Homo sapiens: one gene and its partners. The protein of the gene in region 2 purifies or fractionates together with the protein of the main gene of each other region. This does not show direct contact. Each region holds a gene or a part of one and is shown on either strand. Other genes may lie near its edges.

The links.
Region 1: the proteins of DPEP1 (region 2) and NCAPG purify together in Homo sapiens (affinity purification with mass spectrometry; 2 studies listed by BioGRID and IntAct, with this or other methods). This does not show direct contact.
Region 3: the proteins of DPEP1 (region 2) and ELOVL5 purify together in Homo sapiens (affinity purification with mass spectrometry; 2 studies listed by BioGRID and IntAct, with this or other methods). This does not show direct contact.
Region 4: the proteins of DPEP1 (region 2) and PIGA purify together in Homo sapiens (affinity purification with mass spectrometry; 2 studies listed by BioGRID and IntAct, with this or other methods). This does not show direct contact.
Region 5: the proteins of DPEP1 (region 2) and ASIC1 purify together in Homo sapiens (affinity purification with mass spectrometry; 2 studies listed by BioGRID and IntAct, with this or other methods). This does not show direct contact.
Region 6: the proteins of DPEP1 (region 2) and STEAP2 purify together in Homo sapiens (affinity purification with mass spectrometry; 2 studies listed by BioGRID and IntAct, with this or other methods). This does not show direct contact.
Region 7: the proteins of DPEP1 (region 2) and STEAP3 purify together in Homo sapiens (affinity purification with mass spectrometry; 2 studies listed by BioGRID and IntAct, with this or other methods). This does not show direct contact.

What each region holds. Positions count from the first base shown.
Region 1 is NC_000004.12:17,824,479-17,827,978, reverse strand, and holds part of NCAPG (condensin complex subunit 3), read right to left. Parts: intron 3,012-3,500; coding exon 2,922-3,011; intron 2,598-2,921; coding exon 2,418-2,597; coding exon of another isoform or gene 2,412-2,417; intron 1-2,411. UniProt on the Homo sapiens protein: Regulatory subunit of the condensin complex, a complex required for conversion of interphase chromatin into mitotic-like condense chromosomes.
Region 2 is NC_000016.10:89,612,196-89,616,441, reverse strand, and holds the start of DPEP1 (dipeptidase 1 isoform a precursor), read right to left. Parts: upstream 2,801-4,246; 5' UTR 2,723-2,800; intron 1-2,722. UniProt on the Homo sapiens protein: Hydrolyzes a wide range of dipeptides including the conversion of leukotriene D4 to leukotriene E4. Hydrolyzes cystinyl-bis-glycine (cys-bis-gly) formed during glutathione degradation.
Region 3 is NC_000006.12:53,275,951-53,279,450, forward strand, and holds part of ELOVL5 (very long chain fatty acid elongase 5), read right to left. Parts: intron 1,122-3,500; exon of another isoform or gene 1,043-1,121; intron 307-1,042; coding exon 229-306; intron 1-228. UniProt on the Homo sapiens protein: Catalyzes the first and rate-limiting reaction of the four reactions that constitute the long-chain fatty acids elongation cycle.
Region 4 is NC_000023.11:15,322,240-15,325,523, reverse strand, and holds part of PIGA (phosphatidylinositol N-acetylglucosaminyltransferase subunit A), read left to right. Parts: intron 1-371; coding exon 372-504; intron 505-652; coding exon 653-859; intron 860-3,284. UniProt on the Homo sapiens protein: Catalytic subunit of the glycosylphosphatidylinositol-N-acetylglucosaminyltransferase (GPI-GnT) complex that catalyzes the transfer of N-acetylglucosamine from UDP-N-acetylglucosamine to phosphatidylinositol and participates in the first step of GPI biosynthesis.
Region 5 is NC_000012.12:50,074,596-50,078,095, reverse strand, and holds part of ASIC1 (acid-sensing ion channel 1), read right to left. Parts: intron 1,129-3,500; coding exon of another isoform or gene 1,036-1,128; intron 884-1,035; coding exon 733-883; intron 97-732; coding exon 1-96. UniProt on the Homo sapiens protein: Forms voltage-independent, pH-gated trimeric sodium channels that act as postsynaptic excitatory receptors in the nervous system, playing a crucial role in regulating synaptic plasticity, learning, and memory.
Region 6 is NC_000007.14:90,218,240-90,221,739, reverse strand, and holds part of STEAP2 (metalloreductase STEAP2), read right to left. Parts: intron 1-3,500. UniProt on the Homo sapiens protein: Integral membrane protein that functions as a NADPH-dependent ferric-chelate reductase, using NADPH from one side of the membrane to reduce a Fe(3+) chelate that is bound on the other side of the membrane.
Region 7 is NC_000002.12:119,244,334-119,247,833, reverse strand, and holds part of STEAP3 (metalloreductase STEAP3), read right to left. Parts: intron 3,413-3,500; exon of another isoform or gene 2,346-3,412; coding exon 1,846-2,345; exon of another isoform or gene 953-1,845; intron 156-952; coding exon 1-155.

The DNA of each region.
Region 1 (3,500 bases), on a different chromosome or scaffold from region 2:
AAACACAAAAATTAGTGTGGTGGTGCACACCTGTGGTCCCAGCTACTTGGGAGGCCGAGGCACGAGAATGGCTTGAACACGGGAGGTGGAGGTTGCAGTGAGCTGAGATCATGCCACTGCACTCCAGCCTGGGCAACAGAGGGAGACGTTGTCTCAAAAAAAAAAAAAAAAAAGTCTAATCTTCATCTTGCCTAATTATCACCTCAAAAAAAAAAAAACCTGACAACCTCGTTTATCATCTATGAGCTAGCCCAGCTATTTTCTAAGTTTCAGATTCATATATATAACTGCTAAAAGACATTTCCTCTTGATGTTCCACAGTTTCCTCAAACTCAACATGTCCAAAAGGGAACTCATCATTACACAAATCTCTCCTCTTCCTTGTTCTCTATCTTCATACTGTCATCACCATCTACCCAGTTGTCTAAACCAAAAGACTTAAGATACATTCCTGACTCCCTTTTCTCCGTTACTAATTTCTAAATACCTCTCAAGTTCATCACTACTTTCCAAATCCACTGTCATTATCTTGTTCAGACTACCATCATCTGTAAGTCTCCCAACCCTACTGTAAGTCTCCCAACTATTATGCCTGTCTAAGCTTTTACTACTCTCCAATCCATTTCCTAAACAACAGTGATCTGAGACATAAGACTTACCTAACCACTTAAAATACTAGTGGTTCACCACAATCCTTAGAATACAAAATTTTTAATATTGCTTACGCAAAGCCTTACATGACCTAGCCCTTAATTTTTCCCCAGATTTTTCTCCTGCTTCTCCCCATCAATTCTCTAGTCACATGGACCTGAAGTTTTAAAACATAATAGGCATTCTTTAACTTCTGGACCATCACAGATGTTGCTCCATCTGTCTACAACATTCCTTCCATAATTCATTGAGGAGAGACAGCACAGAGTGAGTTAAAAGCACAAGTCTAGAGCCACTTCTTGGGTTTAAATCCTGCCTCCACCATTTACTATCTGTGTGATTTTGGGCAAGTTACTTGCCCTTTGTAAAATGAAGATAATAATAGTACCAACCTCATAGGCCTATAGGAAGAAAAGAATGAATTCACATTTGTGAAGTAATTAATGCTGTGACTACCACAGAAAAAGTATCCTCTGACTGTTAGATTATATTGTTATTTTTATTCTAATCTCAGGATAAAACATGTCTTCCTCTGGGGAAGCCAACAATACTCTACCAGCACTAGAAACCTCTCCATAAAACCTCTATACTTCCCTGACCATAGCATTTATTATGCTCTGTTGTAGTTGCATTTTAACAGATTTGTAGCCCTCGAACAGGACAAATAGACACATAAATGGTCAAAGCAAGTCAAGTTAAACAGACGATATTAACCATGATAGACTACTTTTGCTAATTTTATAATTTTGACCTAAAGTTTGTCATTTTTCAGATGATATTTTCAGTTTTTGCTTTAAATTTGCTTTCCAAATTTAATAGCCTATAATGGCCCACAGACTTCGTCAAATAAAAGAAGCCACCAGCTATCAAAATAAAATTCAGGCATACACTCTGGGAAGGTGGGTGTTGGAGTTGGGATGTCTATGGCTAAAGAGATCAGAAACATAACTCATGAAACTCTCCTATATAAAAGAGTCTCCTATTTAGCATTCTTTTTATGAGAATAATCAGCACATCCCAAAAGTACAACAATAAATGATGTTCATTACAAAAGGCAAGATCCCAAAAGAAATTAAAGTTAATATCAAATATTAATTGATACCTATCTTATGTTTACATATTTATCATTTGTTGTAAGACAGAATGGTATCGATACCATTAACAAAAAATTTCTTTCAGAAGGAAAGACATACTCCATTTAAGAGAGTACTTTAACAAACTAATTTTTTAAAAAACGAACTACTGAAAAGCAAGCTTTAAATGTTACTAGACATATTTCAGTATTTCATTAAAAATAACAAAGCTGCGTAGCTTTTTCTAAAAACACAAAAGTAATTTAGCTTTAAAAAAATGCACGTTACCATAGAAATTATTTTGCTAGCAATAAAAAAGAAAGGTCATTGATCCTCCACAAATAAGAGGAAAATGGATGTATTTTCCTTTTTTAAACCATTCAAGACAAAAAACAGAAAACTCAGATGTGAACCACTGGAAAGCTAGCTTCCCTGGTAAGAAAGACTTCGGATTCTAGAGATTAGCATGACAAGGAAGCAAATAAAGTCCTACCTCCAATAATTAAAGTTAATTAAGGCCTTTCAAAGTCCAAAAATAGAAACAGGGAAAAACTTTTTTCATTTTAATTCATGTCACTATTACAAAGTGCTCAAAGTAAATATATTTTGGCAATTCTAGAAGTTAGAGAAAATAAGATTTAGTTGAGATGATTAATAACACCTGAGATTTAGTATGAAAAAAGTTACCTGTACCTTCTCTATGTGGACTTCTTTAATTTCAAGTTGCTCTGTCTCTTTCAAAAGGTTTATTCTGGCATCTTCTAATGCTTTTATTTCTTCTTTTAATTCTGATGCCCGATTAAAATCCTGTAAGGTAATGCAATTTTCCAAAGCTTCTTTGGCTTCGATAAGCTTAACTTTTATTTCAGCCATCTAAGGGAAGATATAAATTGTTTCAACACTGAACAAAAACTGTTAATATGAATATCTGTAGCAACTCAGGAGTATTATTTAATATCTCAACTGCCCAGAATTTAATGAGTCAGGCATATGCAAACTTGTAGTTTTCCTGACACAGAGATCTGCATATCTCTGAGACTGACATATGTGGTAACATTTTAAATATTCTTATAGTTTAACAATTAAACAATAATTTGATTATGTGAGAAACATTTCAGAACTGCACAGCAAGAGGAAAGAATAGACTTGCCCAGCTACATTACACTCAAGCACTTCTTTCATTTAAAAGAGACTTACCTTGAGTTCTTTCTTTCTTACATCAGCTGGATCGTTATTAACACCAACAGTAACAATGGGCGCCCGAATCTCTGAGATAATTTCTGTAACCTGTAAGTTCAGAGTACATGCTTTAATATATGTTTGATATATCAGCAAATAGTATCAAAATTCTATATAAAACTCCAAGTAGTATCCACCATATATTGAATAATGGAGCAAAAACATACTGGTAGAAATAGCACACATTCTGTTTGCTAGACAATTTTAGAAAAAAACAAAACAAAACAATATATCTGACTACAAAATGAAATTATTTGAATGGAAGGGAAATAGGCACACAGACAGTGAAAGTAAATTATCCCTCATATAATGTTTGAAAAACAGAAATATGAATTATGGTGCTTAAGATGAGACACTTAAATTCTCTGCCTAAAATCCTCAACCCTTCTCTTGTTCAGCTCTGTAGGAGTTAAACACAGAAAAATGGAATATCCTTTTATTCTTCCTTTGGGTAGACAATGCATAAATAATAATAGCATAAGGAAGGACTTTCCTTTCAGAACCACTTGTATATTGGAATTGGCTGATCAGGAAAAG
Region 2 (4,246 bases):
CTCCCGGCACAGCCCCGAGCACACCCGCTGTCTCCCCTCCTTTCCGCCCGTCTGTCCGATCCTCTCACAGCTGGCTGGGCCATACTGCTCTGTGAAACTGTGCCCGGTCAGCCCCGGAGTGGGTGACCCAGGACCCGCTGGCTGTGTCCTTCCAGGGCACAGGTCCCAGCCTCTCCTGTTTCGTCGACACTGGCTACCTGTGTGGGCTTGTCTGTTTCTGGGCTCTGAGCCCTATCCCCACAGCACTGACTCCCCCACCCACCTGAACCCCCAGCCCAGCCCCCGAAGCCCCACGGACCCAGCCTCCTGCTGCGCACCCCAGCTGGAGTTCAGGGAGCATTTTAAATTCACTTTTTGTGTTTTTTTTTTGAGATGAAGTCTTGCTCTGTCACCCAGGCTGGAGTGCAGTGGTGTGATCTCAGCTCACTGAAACCTCTGCCTCCCAGGTTCAAGTAATTCTCCTGCCTGGGGACACGACACGTAGGGGACGCCTGAGCCCTGCGCCTTTGGGCCTCAGTATCTGTGAAATGGGCCTGTGAAAGGGGTGGACACTCAGAGGCCAGGGCGGGCCTTGGTGCTTGGTCTCCCTCCACACAGCCCACTCCTCTCCAATTCACACCCCACCAGCCGGCCAGGACCCCGGGGCCCCCGTGTTGACCGCCTGCCTGGCTGCTGCAGCTCCTGCCCTCTGGTGGCCAAATCCCAACGTGCCTCCGTGGGGCCGGTTCCCGGCTCCAGTTCACCGGGGCCTCGCGGGGTCCTGCAAGGCGGGGTCCTGGGGGCTCACTTCACCCAAGAACCAGCTGCTCCTCCCTCAGGGTGGGCTCTGCCTGTGGGCTCTGAAGACCTGGGAAGGCTGAGCAGGTGCTCGGAGCCACCACTGCTTCCATGGGTGTCCTGCCCTTTAACCCACGCCCTCACCCCTGAGAGCAAGGCTGCTGTTACCCCTGTCTCCTACTCTTGGAAACTGAGGTAGAGAAGACAGGTCCAGCCCCCTGGCTCATGGGAGATGGAGCCAGGATGTACGCACAGGACACAGGTCCAGAGACTCCAGAGCTGCGTGTAGACCAGCACCACTGCCCTGCCAGGCCCGCCTGCCCGCTCTGTACCCAGTGGGAGCTGGGAGCCTCAGCCCGACCTGTGAGGCCACCCCTCAGGGGCGGCTCTGAGAGGCCGCTTTGGGGCTCAGTGTCCGTCCACCGCAGCCTACGTCCCCCTGAAGCTGCAAGCAGGGACTGAGGGACCCTCCCCGTCTGCTCCTGGCCTCCGACTGGAGATTTGTCAAAGCTGACCTTTTGTCGACAAGGAGACTGAGGCCCAGCGGGAGGTATTTTAGAGACACTTCCACGTTTGGAGGCCCTAGATGCCCCCTTCCACCCATGACACCCACTGAGCTTCTCCATGGGGTCAGACGCCAATCAGCAAGAATTCGCCAAGAGATGTGGAGGCTACTAGACCCTCACCATGAAAATAGCTTGGCTGTGTAAGAGCCATTGGCCGAAGTAGGTTCTGCCCTTCGCTAGCCCAGCCGCAGCTCCAGACTCCAACTTCCGCCTGTGCCCAAGGCTTTCTCTCTAGCATGTCCTGTGATAACCCTGAAGCTCCCCGCACCCTACCCGGGGAGAAGATTTTTCTTTTATTTTTTTGGATACGGAGTCTCGCTCTGTCACTCAGGCTGGAGTGCAGTGGCACGATCTCAGCTCACCGCAACCTCCGCCTCCCGGGTTCACGCCATTCTCCTGCTTCAGCCTCCCGAGTAGCTGGGACTACAGGCGCCCGCCACCACGCCCGGCTAATTTTTTGTATTTTTTATTAGAGACGGGGTTTCACCGTGTTAGCCAGGATGGTCTCGATCTCCTGACCTCATGATCTGCCCACCTCGGCCTCCCACAGTGTGGGGATTACAGGCGTGAGCCACCGCGCCCGGCCACAGCTTTGATTTTCATTCAGCAAATCCTTTCCACCTGGAAGGAAATTGTGGGGCCGGACAACAGGCCCTGCTCTTAGCTGGGCGGGAAGGCAGATGACTGCGCAGAGAATTCCAGAACAGAGAGTAAGTCCGGGGACTCGGCGCTCCTCACACAGCCTCTGAGAACTCTTCCTGGAGGAAGGGGTACGTGAGCTGAGTCCCAAGGGTGCCTAGGACCGCACTGGGCGCCACAAGGAAGGAACAGCCGGCACAGTGGACAAGCGGGGTTGTGGGGCCTCTGGAGGGCCTGGCGGGTCCAGACCTCATCCTAGGGACCACGGGGAGGGCCAGTGGGAGGACAGCGGCGGGTCTGAGAGCAGCTCTCCCACCTCCTTGAGTCCCAGGAAGCCGCCGCGTCCCCTGCCCCACACACCTGGCCCCAGTTTCCTAGAATCCCAGGAAGCAGCCGCGTCCCCTGCCCCACACACCTGGCCCCAGTTTCCTAGAATCCCAGGAAGCAGCCGCGTCCCCTGCCCCACACACCTGGTGCCAGCCTCCTAGAATCCCAGGAAGCTGCCTCGTCCCCTGCCCCACACACCTGGTCCCAGCCTCCTAGAATCCCAGGAAGCCGCCCCGTCCCCTGCCGCACACACCTGGCCTCAGCCTCCTAGAATCCCAGGAAGCCGCCGCGTCCCCTGCCCCGCACGCCTGGTCCCAGCTTCCACCCACAGTGGTGCCCTGGGGTCCCCGGGCCTGCACCACCCCAGGTGGGCACCCCAGTACCCTGGCGCACCGACTCCCCAGCCCACTCACCCTGGCCTCTGCGATGCAGACTTGCTCCCTGGCAGGGCCCGGCCTAGGCAGCTCCCACGCCAGGCTCACAGCTGGGCTGGCCCTACCCGGCCACCTGCTGCCCCTCCCAGGCCCCTCCTCAGGAAGGTGAAACTGCCCCATTTCCTGCAGGAACCCTGTGTTCTCTGAAAGTAGAAAGAGGAGGGAAATGGAGGAGGGGAGGGGAAGGTTGGAGAGAAAGGGCCAGGGGTCGGAAGGAAGGGCTGCAGGAGGGAGAGAGGAGGAGGGAGAGAGGAGGAGGGAACTTTGCTCCAGGAGATGGCTCTGCGTCCTGACCTCCCCCAAGGCTAGAAACTTCTCCAGCAGCTTCCTCATTTCCTGAGAGTGCCCTGAGATGTCCTGGCAGTGTTTTTCCCTCATGTGTGGATGTGCCACCTCCCAGCCAGGGGGGTGCGTGCACAGCTGTGCTGTCCAGCTCTGTGATGTCAGATCTTAGAGAATGCTACACATCAGTACACATAAGCCATCTGTGTCCTTTTTCTCATGCATTTTCGTTGTGAAAATACAACATGTATACCAACAAGACATATAGGTGTTGGGAGGGAAACTGAGGCAGGGCTTGCATGATGTCCTTTGGAATGTGTCTAGACTTGCTGGCTCCTTCCTTCTAGCCCTCCTAGGCCCCTATTCCCATTATCTCAAGTAGCAGAACATGCTCCATATAAATGCTAAACCGGCACAGCTGTAATCATGTGCTTAATGCAACGTGGTCTTTTGACCTCCATATTCTCACCATCTGTTTCTTTGTTGCATTACCAATAAATACCGTGGGCTCCCAGAGCTCGGGCTTTTGCAGCCTCCACAATAGCGATGGCCCCCTGGTGTGCCACCTTTCTCTCTCTGTGTTTTTCTGAATCCTTTGACTCCGCCGGACTTTGTCACCCCCACGACCTGGGGTTGGGTCTGATCACCCCAACATATAGGTACTGTACCTTTACACAGAAACTACACAGGTGTTCGTAGCAGGACAATTTAGTATAGCCAAAATGTGGGAAGAGTGCAGATGCCCAACACGGGGACAGATAAATGTGTCTCTTCACGCAGTGGAGTATTACTCAGCCATGAAGAAGAGTGACGTGCTGACACGTGCTATAACATGAAGAACCTCAGAAACATTTCGCTAAGTGGCAGAAGCCAGATAGTCGGGTGTGGTGGTGCGCACCTGTGGTCTCTGCTGTGAGGCTGAGGCAGGAGGAGCGCCTGAGCCTGGGAGACTGAGGTTACAGTGAGCTGCGATCACGCCATTGCACTTCAGCCTGGGCCGCAGAGTGGGAGCCTGTCTCAGAAAAGAAAGAAAGAAGCTAGACTCAAAAGACCACATGTCGTGTGATTCCACTTATATGAAATGTCCAGAATAAGTGACTCCATAGACACAGAAGGTGGATTCATGGTTGTTGAGGCTGTGAAGGAAAGTGGGGAGTGGGTGCTAATGGGAATGGGTTTCTATTTGGGGCAATGACTTTTTTTTTTTTTTTTTTGAGACAG
Region 3 (3,500 bases), on a different chromosome or scaffold from region 2:
AATTGTTAACCGGAGTTATTTTTACAGAGGGGGATGCTTTAGGTTTTATTTTATACCTTTCACATTCAAATTTTAATTTGATGTGTATATATTGCCTTTTTTATTCTTTTAAAAATATCAACAGGGATTGCCTGGGCAGTGAGGTTATGGGCCATTTTGTATTTTATACAATTTATTTTTAAAAACTCAACACTTATAATAATAAAGTTTCTGAAAAAGAGACAGTACCTTCATATCTGATTCTCCTGCGGTGCGTGTGCCCTGACAGAAGAAGTTGTATTTGCCTTCCCATACTCCTGTTACTAACTAAAAAAGAAGAAAGAGCCAGTCACCAACAGCATCTGAGCCATGTAAAGTCCTCATTGAACTTTATTAGTTGCAGAATCTGTGATAATTTACCTTGGGCTGTGCTGAGCCAAGTTTGCTCTGAGAAAAAACAATTGTAGGCAAGTGTAAACAAAAGGAAAGCTTTAATGACTTGAGTCTCAATTTCCTAAGGGGTGGGCTTAAAAGTCACTCCCAGGCTGCTGCCCTCAGAGACCTTCCTTTACCACGCTGCTTCTCTGCAGAACCCTCAGCCCGTCACCCCCTTGGTCCTAGCACAAGTGCCCAGACCAAGCCAATCACAGGCTCCCTGCTCTGCCCCACAGAAGCCTCTGGCTGCTTTCCCTAAGCCAGTGCTCCTCAAACTTGAGTGTGCAGCACCAGAATTACCTGAGGGGTGAGTTAGTAAAACATGGGTCCCTGGGGGTGTTTCTGTTCCAGTAGGTCTGGGGGCCTAGAATTTGTATGTCTAACAAGGTCCAGGTGATACTGATGCTGCTGATGTGGAAACCATACTTTGAGAACCACTGCTGTAGGCTCAGGGATAATTTAGTCCAACTTTATCTTCATTATTTCCTGTTGTTGTATGTACAATCCTCCGGATCCATGAATTAGGCTTCACAAACTGAAGGCTTCACAAGTGCCCATGCCTCAGAATCACTTGCAGCACAGTAGGCACTATGCTGTCACAGAGAGGACCCCAGAACTGGGGTACAGGCTCTACATCACAGCCCAGCAGTTATCACGGGCCCCTCCCCTCAATGGGCCCGTGATAACTGCAGGGCTGTGATGTAGAGTCTGCACCCCAATTCTTGTGTTCCCTGTCCTTGAACACAAGAGTTTAGCTTGGCGAGCAACACAGATTCCCCCCCAGGGAACAAGAGGTGATTACAAGGATCTGAAGACACCTTGTGATATTTCCACCTGGTCTGACATCAGAAATAAATGGCAAAAAATGGGTGTAGCCGCTGCACTCACGCTGGGTATCCTGCCTTCTATCTGATTTTTCTTTGGTTATCTTTCTTCTTGCCATTTTCCTTCTGCTTTGTCACCTTCTACACATAAAAAAGCACTGAGAGTTAACAGGCTTTTCATGGCCAAAGAAGAGCACAAGGATTTAGCATGGGAGAAGCATCAGTTCATGATGAAGAGCCATGGAATTAGGAGGAAGGCTTGAGTGCCAGGCCCAGCACCTGGGGCAAGCCAGCTAATTCCTGTGGGCTTTTGTTGTTTTTACTATAAAATGATGAGGTTGGACTAAATTATCTCTAAAGGGTCTGTTCCAAATTTCTGTAGCTTCATGTTAACAGACTTTAAAAACAGACCACACAACAAACTATTCTATACTATCTTTGAAAGATCAGTACCCACATGGTAATTCATTAGAAGGTGTATTAACTTTTCTGTCTTCTACTACTCTCTAAAGTCATGGCCAGTCAAGCAGGATCCATGCAGGCTGATCAGAAGTCCTAAGAAGCAAGACACAAAGTCTGAATCCAAAGTGCGTTGGAGGTCGGGGGAGGAAGCTGGCATGCACTCTTGAGACCTGGGGTGGAGAGGGAAGGGCCAGCTTAGCACAGTGCTCTTTTTGCTGCCCTTCTTTCTACCCCAGGAGGGAACCAAGGAACTACCTCCTGTGGCTTGAGGGTACAGAAAGGAAACTGGTGCTTCTTGATGAAATGTTTGTGGGACAACCGCGAATAAGAAAAATAAGGACAACGCAGTAAGGTTTTCATGAAGATAAATTCGTGCAATGTAAAAGATCCTCTTTTTTAAAACAGCAGCCTCTCTTGGCAAAATTAAAAACGTACTAACATATGACTGTCTTCATCAGAGATATTTTTGGAAATGTTACCATTTTATGAATCTTAAATCTGGAACCTACCATCACTGTTTTTTCCAGCGACTATTTTGGTTTATGGTGTCCAGAGACATCCTGGGTTGGTTTTGCTTTTGTCTGTTTTAAAATAGGATGGCTGGTGTGTGTGCACTTGTGGAGGTGTGGATGACTGCATTCATGAATGTCTATCTTGGCAGGGGTGGGGAAAATCAAGGTAGCTCTCTGGAGAAGAGGAGGACAAATCCTCTCTTGTAATTCTGCAGGCGCCTCAATCCCAAAGATGAGAACGGGTTGAAGGGGTCTTGTTAACTCAGCAGAAGGGACTCTTGGACACAGGCTTCCTTTTTAAGAAGGGATCCAGGTGGGATTGCCTTGACTCTTTAAACTAGTTAACCTAACGTTCCATTTGCCCTCTCCCCACCCATAAATGGGGCAGGGGAATCCATGTATAAAACACCTGTTGTCTTTGGAGTTTAGTTAAAGAACTCAAACCTCAGTATTGGGTGGTGAACTTTTTTCACTCCTGAAGCATAAACCAGGTATACACACAAGAAGCTGCTCACTCGGTGCCACTCCACTTGACCTAGGCCCACCATTCCTCTTCCACCTGTTGAGGTTCCCTGTAGGAGCTCTGTCATGCTTCAATGCAACACTCCCTCCACTGCTACTCACACCTACCACACTTCCACTGGGGCCGCTGTGCCCCTCAAACCACTGAATTCCATATTTCCATATTTAAAACCCTCCAGTGAGTCATCATTGCCTTCAGAATGAAACCCTGAATCCTAGGTGCAGTGTCCAGGTATTTAGTCTTCCACAACGTGGTCCCAAGCTTATCTTTCACTTCTCCCCTACGTGCACACAAATTGGACCTCTTCCCATTCTCCAAACATGCCCTTCCTTAACCGCTACACAGTAGCCAAGGGGAAAGAGCATGGGTTTGGGCATTAGCCCATTAAACCCTAGCTTTTTCACGTTTTGCTAGGTGACCTTAGCTAAGGTATTCCAACATTTTAAACTTCAGTTTTCTCAGTCCTCAAATGGGATAAACATAAGGCTCCCACCATGAAGTACATAATGCCTGTCTCACCCAATGTGGTTCATAGGATTAAACATAAGTGTTGGCAGTGACCACTGTTTTATTCTTTTCAACTAGAATGCCCTCTGCACCTATGTACCCCCATCTCCAGCTCTCAAAATCCTATCTATCCTTCAAAGTTCAGTTAAAATTCTATTTTCTTCATGATTACTCCCTTGAGCACTAGAGCCTGAGGTCTATTCTCCTTCCTCTACCCTCACCTTGCAGTGACCTGTAGCTGTTTGCTCACATGCTCCC
Region 4 (3,284 bases), on a different chromosome or scaffold from region 2:
ACAACACAAGGCTTGTACGTGTAAAGCATCAATTTTAATAAAAAGGCCATTTTCCTGTTTACAAATGGCACTTTAACATTAAATTATCAAAGTTTATTAATATTATTACATACAGACTAGTTTTGGAGAAGATAAAGTTTGATATGTGTAACAAAAGTTAGAAATAATGTTCGCTGTATGAGTTTTAACCCAACTGCTTTATAAGGCTGTTTCTATTAGATCAGTGTTTGGTGATACTAATCTTGAGGTGGAGAACATTAGCAGCAATAAGAATTTAAGTGTAATATAAATAGCAGACTTGGTTTATAAATTAAATTTCTTTTGTAGCATGAGTTTTCACTCCTTTCTTCCCCTCTCATTTAAAAAATCAGGGTGCGTCTTTTGGGAGCTTTAGAACACAAGGATGTTAGAAATGTCTTAGTTCAAGGACATATTTTTCTGAATACCTCCCTTACTGAAGCATTCTGCATGGCGATCGTGGAAGCAGCCAGTTGTGGTTTACAGGTAAAAAGCTTTGAGGGCATTCATGGTTGGGATTTCTGTGTATTTTGAAAAATAATGAGACACATTCCATAATAATGTTTTAACTGGTTTTGTTGATCTTCCTGAGGTATGATTATGGTGGAGTATGTGTTCTTTCTTTCTTTTTAAGGTTGTAAGTACCAGAGTTGGTGGAATTCCTGAGGTGCTTCCAGAAAACCTTATTATTTTATGTGAGCCTTCAGTAAAATCTTTGTGTGAAGGATTGGAAAAGGCTATTTTCCAACTGAAGTCAGGGACATTGCCAGCTCCAGAAAACATCCATAACATAGTAAAGACTTTCTACACCTGGAGGAATGTTGCAGAAAGAACTGAAAAGGTATGTCACATGCTGAGAAAAGATTGTGTCTGAACTCTTACTTGATGTTTCACGTACACATTTGCTTTTTCTTACATAGATGTTTACCATTTTTGTTCTATTGCTTAAGTTGATGAAATCTCTTCCAGGTGAAAAGAAACAGATTTTGGTACACACACCGGGCTAAGTGTCTGGTCAAATTATTGCGTTTGACATTTGAAAATAGCAGTAATACAGTCTAGCCCCCTCATTAAACTGGGCATAAAGAAGTTACAAAATTTTCTAAAAGTCACAATGAGTAGAGACAAGACGAGTATTAAATCTACTCTTAGATATTTTCTTGAAGCTGTTGATAATTCTAAAGCAAACATCTCTATTAGGAAATGCATGGTTTTGCTGATTGCAGCAACTTTATAACTTGTGAATATTTAATTCAGGCTACTTCCTAAACCTCTTGTAGCCCTTTTGCTAACTACTGTGATTTTCTCCAGGAAAAGGATTTTTGCATCTTTGGGCTGATTGAGAACATAGTAAGTTAGAATTCAAAATGTACGTGACAAACGTGGGAAAAATCACAAATAAAAAGCAGCAACAGAGAATTTCCAAAAGGACAGGTATAGGAAATAGATTAACACCCTTAGGTAGGAGATTACAGTTGTGGGAAATGCTTCCTGAATTTGAATTAGGGACTGCTTTCATTCTCAGTTTCATCCTTTACGTCCTTTTCATGATGTTCTCTGCCTCATGCCTCTTATTACCATGTAACAAGCTGAACAGAAACAACTCAGCTTCTTAGTATGTAGAAATTGTGAACCAGAAAGATAACCAGGTGGAACATGGAGAAGGTAGTAGTTTAGAGTAATGCTACCAACGTGATATTCAGTGGAGCAATGAGTTTTTAGCCTAGAGTAGATAGCAAGTTGGAGCTGAGGAGAATAGCTCTTTACTGTAAGGCTTTCTTACTTGGTTTGAATGATGAATTCCAGTATATAAGATGAACTCATATGTGAATGGAAGTTCTAAAAACTTATCTCTAAAAATTGTCTTATACATTTTCCATTGAAACATGAGATGTTTGCGACAGTCAAACATTTTTGACTGAAGCATTTTGAGACATTCTGACCTTCTACAAGTCTTGTACTATCTCTCCCATATGAAACATGGAAAGTTGGAGTCTAGTGCTTACCTGTTGGGAGTACATGTCAGAGTCCCCGGGCAGCCTTTTCAGACTCTCTCTACTCCATCTTGATGTCCCCCTGCCTCCCCAACCACTCCCTAGATTCCAGTGTTATCCTTTAGGAGCAGAGATAGAATTGGGGGTATAATTGGCAGGGATATTTGGTCAGACAGGTTATTTTGATGATACCATCCTGATCTCCACTCCCTTTGAGAACCATGGCACTGTTAAGTTGTGACTTGACCTTCTTCATTGACATCGTATAAACCCCAGAAGCCTGAGCCACTGTAGGTAATAAGTTAACAGGGAAAGAACTGTGGTGACGGTTTGTCAGCATATAGTAAAGGGGCTAATTGGGATTTTTTTGGTAACCACATTTTTCTTTTGGTTAAAGTAATAGTACAGCATCTGTATTTTTTTTAATTCTATGGTGATTTATAATACACTTTTAGAAAAAAGTAAATCCTTGCCTATAATGGATTGTCATCGCTAACATTCTCTTCATAATAGTAAATTGTTATTTTATCACTTAAAACTATAAGTAGATTAATTGACCTGAAATAAAGCTGGACAAAAAAGTCAGTTTGTAGTTACTCTTTTAACCCTATGACATTTTAATTCATTTCAACTCCTCCTTCTTAGTTTAACTGTGCTATTTAGGAAATCGATCATGAAATTAATTTGGAGTTCATGCTGTAAACATACTTCTTCAATTGCAATTCACCAGTCTCAGCATAATTCTCAACATAATTCTGATTAAAATGTTTGTATTCAGAATGTCCTCAGGGTAAAAGAGCTCGATGAAAACATGCCGTACCTTTCAAGGGCTGTTGACCTGTACAACATGCACTGCATGTTATAACTTCCTTGAGTTCAAAAGGAGACGGTTTAAAGGTCTAATATATGAGACTAAGCACAAGTAATACTCAAATTACAAAATATGAATGTTGGCCCATTTGATGTGTTCTGAACAAGTATGTTTAAAGATCTTCGTTTTTTGATATTTTAGAGCTTAGTACTTAGCAGTGTTTTAAAAAGCAAGCCACCTACTTGCTCAGCAAAAAACGTTATTTCATTTGCCAGCATTTGACCTATACTATCTACTGAAATTTCCCCCATCTCTTTATCTTCTTTTATTTGAAATCCATGAAATGCTTCTGCATGTCCTCACCATCCATGCTCAGCAACATGTACAGCCTCATGTGGCTGTTGAAAGAGGAGGCTCTGTGTTCCCAGAAGTATGCTAGATTGTAGCTCTCTGCTTGTGGT
Region 5 (3,500 bases), on a different chromosome or scaffold from region 2:
AGCCTGGGGCCACGCCAAAGCCCAGCTGGTCGATGAAAGGAGGTTCATCCTGACTATGGATCTGCACTTTGATGCCTGCTTCGAAGGACGTCTCGTCTAGGGGAATGAGGAGTGTGTGGGTTGGGAGGGCTCCTGACTCCCTAACACCCCTCAGACCTGGGGGCATCCTACCTCTCCTGGAAATAAGCATAGGGTGCACTGGGGCTGGGGTGGGGGAAGTCTATAGGGTCCTAGCCCACCCCCTAGCCTCCTTCTGGGTTTACCAGCTCTGAGCTGCTCCGATGACCCCTGTATCCTACACACTTCTTTTCTTACCTGGCTTCTGCTCTGCATCTTGATGTTTCAAATACTTTCTCCCAGAGTGTCACTGTTTCAGATGCTCTCCATTTCTCCCACTCCCTTTTTCCCTTTTCCCCCATCTCTCTCTGCCCCAAGGCCCCCCGAGACCAGACAGGCAGGCAGCCCGAGAAGAGAGGGAGTTATTTATAGAGTGGCGGCGGCGTTGATGGAAGAGGATGGCTGGTTACCTTGGAGAGTAACTGAACCAGGAAGTGGGAGCCAGAGAGATGTGAGTGTGGAAGTCAGGTAGAGTCAGTGATAGAGATGGTGAGATGCTGGAGGGAGAGGGGAAAGCCCGGGCCCTGCCCAGGTCTCACAGTGAAGCCCAGGAATCCCCTGGCAGAGGCTGGGGCCTAGAGCCATGCAGAGGGGCCCCTGAAGTGGGTGACGTACCAGTCTCCCCCCACACAGGCAGGTACTCGTCCTGCTGGATGTCCAGCATGATTTCCAGCCCATTGCCCGTCCCACCCTTCATGGTCTTCAGCCGCGGCCGCCCATCTCGGCCCGAGTTGAACGTGTAGCACTTTCCATAGCGTGTGAAGACCTGGCGAGGGCAGAGTGGAGAGCCTAAGAGTCCTGCCAGCACCCTCTACTCACCAAGGGCTGTTCCTAGCCACCCCAGCTGTTGGAATCTCAACACCCTTTGGGAATGGTTCCTCCCGTGCAGCCCATTCTCCATTTGCTCCCCTCTCCCACCTGTTTCTCACCCTTTCTTGCCCTCTGTGTGCCCTGGAAAACTGTTCCTGGTAGGGTGCATCGCCTGAGCTCCTTTGCCACCTGCATGGGCTTCTAGTTGGGGTTGACAGTTGGGAGGTATTGGTAATGGCTCAGAAGGCAGGAGGAAAGATTGGGGTATGAATCCTTCCCCAGCCCTCGCCCCTCTGTAGCTCTAGTAGTGCCTTAGGCCCTCCATGATTACAGATCCTGCCAGGGCTCCCTACAGAGCACTGTCTTCTTTTGTGCTTCTTCAGCCTAGAAGTGATAACGATTTCCTAGTACTGCTCACTGCCTCAGTCCCCCTTATTGGTTTCCTTAACCCTGCCCCCAGCTCTGTCAGCAGTCCCTTTGTTAAAGTCTTCAATTAAATCATCAAGTAGCTGTCTTTTTCCTGCCAGGACCCTGACATATACATTTTCATCACCAGGATCCTAACACGGCCCCTCCTTGGGACACTTTCCTCAGGCCCAAGCTCCTGAGGCCCTCCAAGACATATCTTCTCTTCTCCTAGATTTCACTCTGGGAATCTGAAATTCTGCTTTCCCCAAGACCCAAACTCAGTTTTTTTTTTTTGGGATGGAGTCTTGCTCTGTTGCCCAGGCTGGAGTGCAGTGGTGCGATCTCAGCTCACTGCAACTTCCGCCTCCTGGGCTCAAGTGATTCTCCTGCCTCAGCCTCCCAAGTAGCTGGGATTACAAGTGCACAACATCACACCCGGCTAATTTTTGTATTTTTAGTAGAGATGGGGTTTCACCCTGTTGGCCAGGCTGGTCTCAAACTCCTGACCTCAGGTGATCCACCTGCCTCAGCCTCCCAAAGTGTTGGGATTACAGGCATGAGCCACCGTGCCCAGCCAAACTCAGTTTTTTGGTTTCATTCAGCCCCTAGCCCCTTGGGTCCATCATTATTCCATTATCCCATTATCAGCAGAACCTGAAAGTAGACCCAGTTGCCATGCCAAGGACCACACTCAACCAAGCACCAGCACCTCTTCTTCCAGCACTTGGGACTGAGCCCCCAGGGCATGGTGTGTGCGTTAATGCTTTTGCAAAACTAGGAGGGCCTCAGAAGATATCTCAGCCCCAGGGGCTGTCTCCCCAGTCTTCTCCCCACTCCATGCCCCAGTGCAGCCCTGGTCACAGTGCTGATTAAAAAGCTGCAAAGAGAAAAGTAAACCAGTTATCCTTGGCCTTTTCCCCACAGCCTCCTTGAATGTCCCCAAGTTGGGGTGGCTGTGCTTTTACTACTGCTGGATGGTGACAAAGTCCACAAAACAGGTCATAAGGTGAGTCAATACAGCCCAGAGCAGGGGAGAGACAAAAGAGTTTCAGGCCAGACTGGAGCAGCAATGGCAGTAGGTTACTAGGGAATACGGTCTTTGCCCCCTTCCCCCTTCCTAGAACAGCCTCCTCCATTGACCTCCAGAAGAGGAGACATACTGCTCTCCCCACTTTGTGGGTGAGGTCCAGAGATGAGGCAAAGAGAGAACTCCAAGGGCTCCTAGTCCCCAGCCCCATGACCAGGTCTTGCGGCACCCAGCCACAGGCTCCAGGCTGGACATATGCCCATGCCTACACTCCATCCGGAGTTGTATGGGATTAGAGGTGTCTGAGGCCGGCTAGCAGCCCTGTCTTGCGCCGGTTCAGAGGACAGGGCTGCTGTACAGTGGATTGCTGCTGCCACCTGGTGGGCCTGGGTGAGAACTGTCTGCTCTACTCTCGGGCCCAGAGGTAGACACATTCCTATGGCTCCTGGCCTGAGGCCCAGTGGCCCAAACCCCCAGGCCCCTGTATGCCTGCAGTCATCCCATGATGCACGGGTATGATGACACCCCCTGCCCCTACGCTAGGGAGGGGGTGGAGGACTGAGGGATGGGTGTGTGGGGCAGGGAAGGCCTGGCATCTGGGAGCTGGTGGGGCAGGAGAGCAGTCAGGCCAGACAGACCTGGAAGATGAACTTAGGAGAGACAGTGGGGTACCAGGTGGCCCCCCAGCAGGGAAAGCCCTGGACCCCTGGGTGGGGGGCCAAGCAGAAGGACAGTTCCCAGTGAGAGCTTCCCCTAGGAAGAGGGTCCCTGGCCACTTAAAGCTGGGGAGAGGGATATGATTTAGAGACCTGTTATTTACCCTCAGACACACACACACACACACACACACACACACACACACACACACACACAGAGCTGGTGGGGGTGGGGCGTCCATAGGAGGGCACAGGAAGACCAAGTGAAGATGCAATGAAGTCCCTGCTGCAGGAGATGCTGACAAGGGCCATGGTGGGGTGGGGTTGGGGGATATCCCCACCCCTCTACTGTCACCCTTTCACTCCCTTCTCTTGTACCACCAGAGACCAGGCAGCACCCACCCCAGCTTCAGTCCATGGGTGCTAGTCAAAATAGTGAACAACTGGCCAGGCACTGGCGTCCACCAACAGATCAAAGGTTG
Region 6 (3,500 bases), on a different chromosome or scaffold from region 2:
ATATGACTATAATGTGCTGTGGGGAAGACCTTCTTGTATTGTATCTGTTTGGAGATCTCTAAGTTACCTGTATCCGGGTGTCTACATCTCTCACTAGACTTGGGAAGTTTTCATTGTTGAATAACTTTGAATGCAAATGGATTAAACTTTCCACTGAAAAGATATGGACTAGTAATAGATAAAAAATCATAACCCAAGTATATGCTGGGTACAAGAAACCCATCTAACATATAAAAACACATATAAGACTGAAAGCAAAGGGATGGAGAAAGATAGTCCATGCAAATGGAAACCAAAAGTCACTATACTTATATCAAATAAAACAGTTTGAGTCAAAAACAGTATAAAGAGACAATGAAGGTCATTATATAATGATAATAGATAAATTCTAGCAAGAGGATATAACAATTCTAAACATATATACACCCAACAACAGACCACTCAGATATATTAATATAAATAAAGTGTTATCAGATCTAAAAGGAGAAACAGACGCCAATACAACAACATTTGGGGACTTCAACACCGCCTGCCAGCATCTGACAGATAATCTAGACAGAAAATTAACAAAGAAACATTGAATTTAAACTATACGTTAGACCAAATGGACCTAACAAACATTCACAGAACATTTTATACAACAGTTACAGAATACAAATTCTCATCAGCACATAGACATTCTCTAGGAATGACCATGTTAGAACACAAAATAAGATTCAACAAATTTTTTAAAAATCGAAGTCATATCAAGTACTTCCTCAGACCACAATGGAATAAAACTAGAAGTCAACAACATGAGGAACTTTTGAAACTGTAAAAATAAATGATTAAACAACATGCTCCTAAATGACTACGGGGGCAAAGAATAAATTAAGGAAGAAATCAAAAAATTTCCCTCAACAAATAAAAATAAAAACACAACACACTGAAACCCATGAGATACAGCAAAAGCAGTGCTAAGATGGAAGCTTATATCAACAAGCACCTACACCAAAAAATCATTACGATTTCAAATAAACAACTTAATGATGTACCTCAAGGAACTAGAAAAGCAAAAACAAGCCAAACCCCAAATTGGTAAAAGGAAAGTAATAATAAAGATCAGAGCAGAACTAGACAAATTGGGACTTAAAAAACAATACAAAGGATGGATGAAACAAAAAGTTTTGTTTTTTGAAAAGATAAAATTGATAAAGCACTTGCTAGACTAACCAAGAAAAAAGAGGAAATACTCCAATAAAAAATCAGAAATGGAAAAGGAAACATTACAATTGATACCACAGAAATACATAAGATCATGAGAAGCTATTATGAACAACTATACACCAACAAACTGGAAAACCTAGAGGAAATGGATAAACTGCTACACATATACAAGCTACCAAGATTGAAATGGGAAGAAATGGAAAACCTGGACAGACCAGTAACAAAAAAAGTTGAGGCAGTAATTAAAAAACTCCCAACAAAGAAAAGTCCAGGGCCAGATGGCTTCACTGCCGAATTCTACCAAACTTTCAAAACAGACCTAACACCAATTCTCTTCAAACTCTTCCAAAACATTAAACAGGAGGGAATTCTGCCTAACTCATTCTATGAGGTCAGCATTATCTTCACACCAAAAGCAAACAAGGCTCAACAAAAAAGAAAACTACATACTATTATTCCTGATGAGCACAGATACAAAAACTCTCAACAAAATACTAGCAAACCAAGGGCCAGACATGATGGCTTATGCCTGTAATCCCAGCACTTTGGGAGGCCAATGCAGGAGGATGGATTGAAGCCAGGAGTTTAAGCCCAGCCTGGGCAACATAATGAGACCCTCGTCTCTACAAAAAATTTAAACAATAGCTAGGTGTGGTGGTACACACCTGAAGTCCTAGTACTCGGGAGCTGAGGCAGAAGAATCACCTGAGCCCAGAAGTTGAAGGCTGCAGTGATTTATGATTGCATAACCGCACTCCCTCCTGGGCAACAGAGCAAGACCCTGTCTCCTAAAAATTGTGTGTGTGCGCGCGTGTGTGTCTGTAGAAGCAAACCAAATCTAACAACTCATAAAAAAAACACACACACATCATGATCAAAGGGGATTTATTCCAGGAATGCATCCCAGGGATACAAGGATGGTTCAACATATGCAAATCAACAACTGTGATACATCACCTGAAGAGAATGAAGGACAATAACCATATGATCATCTCAATAGATGCAGAAAAAACATTTGAGAAAATTTAGCATCCCCTCATGATAAAACTTGCAACAAACTAGGGATAGAAAAAATATGCTTCACATAATAAGGGCTTATATGATCTATATAATAATAATATAGCTATCATTATTTTGAAATGGGGAAAAGCTCAAAGCCTTTCCTCTATGAACAGAAACAAGACAAGGATGCCACTTTCACCACTTCTATTCAACATCATATTGGAAGTCCTAGCCAGAGCAACCAGGAAAGAGAAAGAATAAAAGGTACCCAAACTGGAAAAGAGGAAGGTCAAATTATCCCTCTTTGCTGATGATATGATCTTAGATCTAGATAAACCTAAAGATTTCACACAAAAACTCTTAGATCTGATAAATAAATTCAATAAAGTTGCAGGATACAAAATCGACATACAAAAATCAGTACCATTTCTATACACCAACAATGAACTTGCTGAAAAAGACACCAAGAAGGCAATCCCATTTACAATAGCTATAAAAAAAACAAAAACAAACAAAAAACAACTAGGAATATATTTAACCAAGGAGGTGAAAGTTTGCTACAAGGAAAACTACAAAGCACTGTAGAAAAAAATTAAAGATGACATAAACGAATGGAAAAACATTCCATGCTTATGGATTGGAAGAATTAATATTAAAATGACCATACTGCCCAAAGCAATACACAGATTCAATGCAATCCCTATCAAAATACCAATGTGATTTTTCATAGAATTAGAAAAGACAATCCTAAAATTCATATAGAACCAAAAAATATCCTGAATAGCTACAGCAATCCTAAGCAAAAAGAACAAAGCTGAAGGCATCACACTACCTGACTTCAAAATATATTACAAGGCAATAGTAACCGAAAAAACATGGTACCGGTATAAAAACAAATGCACAGATCAATGAATGCAACAGATTAGATAATCCACAAAAAAAATCCACACATTTACAGCCAACTGATTGTCAACAAAGGCACCAAGAACATACACTGAGGAAAGGATATCCTCTTCAAATATATGGTACTTAGACAATTGGATATCTGTATGCAGAAGAATAAAACTGGACCCCTGTCCCTCACCATATACAAAAATCAACGCAAGGTCAACTAAAGACTTAAACATAAGACCCAAAACCCCTCATTTCAAGAAGAAAACATTGGGGAAATATTTGAAGACATTGGTCTAGGCAAAGATTTTATGGCTAGGACCTCAAAAGCACAGCAACAACAACAAAAAAATAGACAAATGGGACTATATTAAACTAAAAGACTTCCGTGCAGCAAAGGA
Region 7 (3,500 bases), on a different chromosome or scaffold from region 2:
GTGGGCACCTTCCAGGCCGGGAGGAGGCGCAGGGGCATGGCCTCCACCTCCCAGGCTGACGCCAGGGATCCCATGTCCACGGGCATGAAGCCCATGGCGAGCGCCATCTCCGAGACAGCACGCTTGGCTTCTGGCTGGTCACCGCAGATGGGCACCTGCGGGAGAAAAGTGGGGCAGTCAGACGGCGTCACAGGCCACAGGAGTGGGCAGGGCCTCACTGAGCAGCTGAGGAAACCGAGGGCCAGAGGGGCAGGGACTTGTTCAAGTGAGCTGCCAGTCAATGGTACAGGTGGGAGCCAATGGGGTTCTAGCTCCCAGGCTAGGGGTCTTTTCTCTGCTGCCCAGGCCTCCCAGCCTCTGGCCCACCTGCCAAGCCAGGCCAACTACTCAAGGAGGGAAGCTGCAAACAGTAAGCATCTTGCCCAGCTCGTGGACATCAGCAACCACAAGCAAAATGCTCATCCAGGTAGTCCCCATGGGCCCCCGACATGGCTGTCTCCAAGGCCGTGGCCTGCCCTGGGAGCCGCTCAGCAAAAGAGTTTTGCGTATGGTGCAGAATGGGCAGCTGTGGCTGCAGCTCCATCCCTCAGTTCAGAATCACCCCCCTTGATGATGTCCCTCGGCTCAGTAGAGCCCTCAGCCAGCACATAAGGCCTTCTACAAGCCAGCTCCAGCCTGCCCTCTCCGCCTTGAAGCCCGCTGCTCTGACCCACGAGGTCCCCCTGCAGGCACATTGCAGTCCTCAGATCCCCAAGCACCCCGTGGGCCTTGTTGACACTGCATTGGTCAGTTTAGTCTCCAAACACAGACTGAACACCTACTCTATGCTGAGCTTTACATATATGATCTCTCAGCCTTGCCATGAGCCCGCAGGTAGGTACTATAGTCTTCATTTTTCAGGTGAGAAAACTGAGGTCTAGGAGCATTGTTTCTTATCTCTGTGCCTTTTCAGATTGTTCCCTCAGACTGGAATGCACTCCCTGCTCCCTGAGCCTGACAGCATGAGGTGGGCCCAGGTCAAAGCCCTCCTCCAAGTCTTTTCCAGCCAGCTTGCTTGCTCCGTTCCCTCCAGGCCCTGCATCCAACACTCTCCACTGTTCCTCCTGGTCCATACCTGGGAGTCCCATGATGCAGCCTGCATTTAAGGTGCTGTAGTCAGGTATGGCTGGGCACCTTTAAACTGTCCTACAGAGCCTGGCACCTGGGCTCGACTCACTGGTGGAAGTTCTCACACATGGAGTCTGGCATTCTTTCGCCAAGAAAATGCATTAAAAACCAAGGTGGCATTAAAAACCACCTTGTCTTGGTAAGAGCTCCTCGTGGCAAGAAACGTATGCAGCTCTAGCTGTTCCGTGGAGCCATTATCTAGCCCCAGAAAAACCTGCTGTTGACTTTTCTGAGAAATCAGTTCTTGGAAGCCCTTAGAATAAATACGATAAAATTTGAGACATGCCTGCCTTCCTCAGGGCCGGGTACATAAGTGTGTTACTTTCCTCCTTCTGAGTCCAATTCTAAAAGCCAAGTCTCTCTCCTTCTTGGCTCCAAATAGCAAAAAGCCATCAACCTTTTCCTCCTTGCCCTCTAGGAAACCCTGTTACCATAGCAGAAAGAACATGGGTTTCAGATCCATAGGAACTGGGTTCAAATCCCAACTTACCAGCTATGGAATTTTCAGTAAGATCATTAATGTCTTTGAGCCACAATTTCCTGTTCTGTAAAATGGAATTTTGCAGTGATGCAGGATTAGTTATGATAACATATCAAAAAGAGCATGCTGGCAGCACTCGATGAAAATTAGCCATTTATATTTATTGTTACGATGGGTATTATTCCCCCAGAACCTACCTGCCTGTTACCATCCCTTGGGCCAGCCTGCAGGGTCCAGGCAGAGATGACATTGAAGGCCTTGACCACTGTGCAAGTGGGGAAGAGGGAGGCCAGGTACTCAGCATTGGACTCACGATGCTGAAGGTGCTCTTGCTCTGTAGGGTTGCTCACATCCACCAGGATCTTGCCCGCCAGCTGGTCACTGAGACTGCACAGTGAAGAGTAGTGCTCCCGGAACACAGCCACAAAGATGACCTCCGGGGAGCTCACTGCCTCCTCTTGGAAAGTCACTTGGGCCGCTGAGGGAAACAGCCTGGCTGTGCGTTTGGGGTTGCGGCTCCCCACCACCACTTTGAAGCCAGAGCCCACCAGGCGTGTGGCCAGGGAGCGGGCAAAGTCCCCGCTACCCAGGATGCCCACTTTGGGGGCCTCATCGGGGACCTTGGCAAGGCTACTATCGCTGTCCACCAGGTGGAGGCTGATCAGTGGCTTGTCCATCTCTTCTGGCATTTTGGTGGCTGCAAGAGAAGTCAGGAACCTGGTCAGTGGAGGGCTCCTGGACTGCCCCTTCTGCCACCTCCCTCCTCTTATACATCGTAACTACACGGCAGTCAGACATTCACCCAGCAGGTGTTCACCGAGTGCTACCACGTGTCAGCACCAGGGGAACAAGCTGAACACAACACAGCCCCTTCCCTGGGGAGAGCACAGACTCAGGAAGAGCAGGGATGACTTCTGCCCTCCACCCTTTGTCCCTCCTGCTGAATGATTTCCTCGGGAAAAACTGGCAGAGTGAGAGTGCTGGGAAAGGGAACTCTGGAATTTCCATGACCAATGTGATGCAGTGCCATACTTCTTTTCAAAAGGATTAGGCAATGGACAGTGTCACTAGCCAGGAGTGACCATCTAACCCCAACCTCACCATCGCTGGGTGTTTGATGACCAGGAAGGGTGAGCATGTCCCTATGCTTGTCTACATTTTGCATCTTGGAGCAGTTCTTCTTATGCTCTCCCTGAAGCATGGTGAACAGCTTGAGGGCAGGACCTCATCTCATCTGACCTTGGACCTCACTGTGTATCATAGCCTGGCACGGAGGCAGTGCTCAGTGTTTGCTGAATGAATGAATGAATGAACACCAAACCTTGATCTCTGAGGGCAGGACTGAGAGACAAGTGAATGGGCCCCTAAGATAGAGTGGGTGCCCTGTGATCTTCTTTGCTGAGCCCAAGATATGAGTGGATGTGGAGGAAACCCTGAACTCGGGCCATCGGTCTACAGTAAACTTGGATGGAAAAATTATTATATATTAATTGTCACCAACTTCTAACTAAAATTTGCTATTTCCTTTAAGTATGAAGGTAGGCAACATAATTTTTCATTAATACTGACCAAGATCATATCATAAATTTACCTGTAAATAATTTATCCTAATACCATTTAAATTGAGCACAAATTTAAAACCATGCTAGCCAGGTGCAGTGGCTCACACCTGTAATCTTAGCACTTCAGGAGGTCAAGGCAGGAGAATCGCTTGAGGTCAGGAGTTCAAGACCAGCCTGGGCCACACAGGGAGGTCCCATCTCTAAAAAAATAAAAAAAAAATTAGCCAGGCACAGTGGCACACGCCTGTCGTCCCAGCTACTCAGGACATTGAGGCAGGAGGATCGCTTGA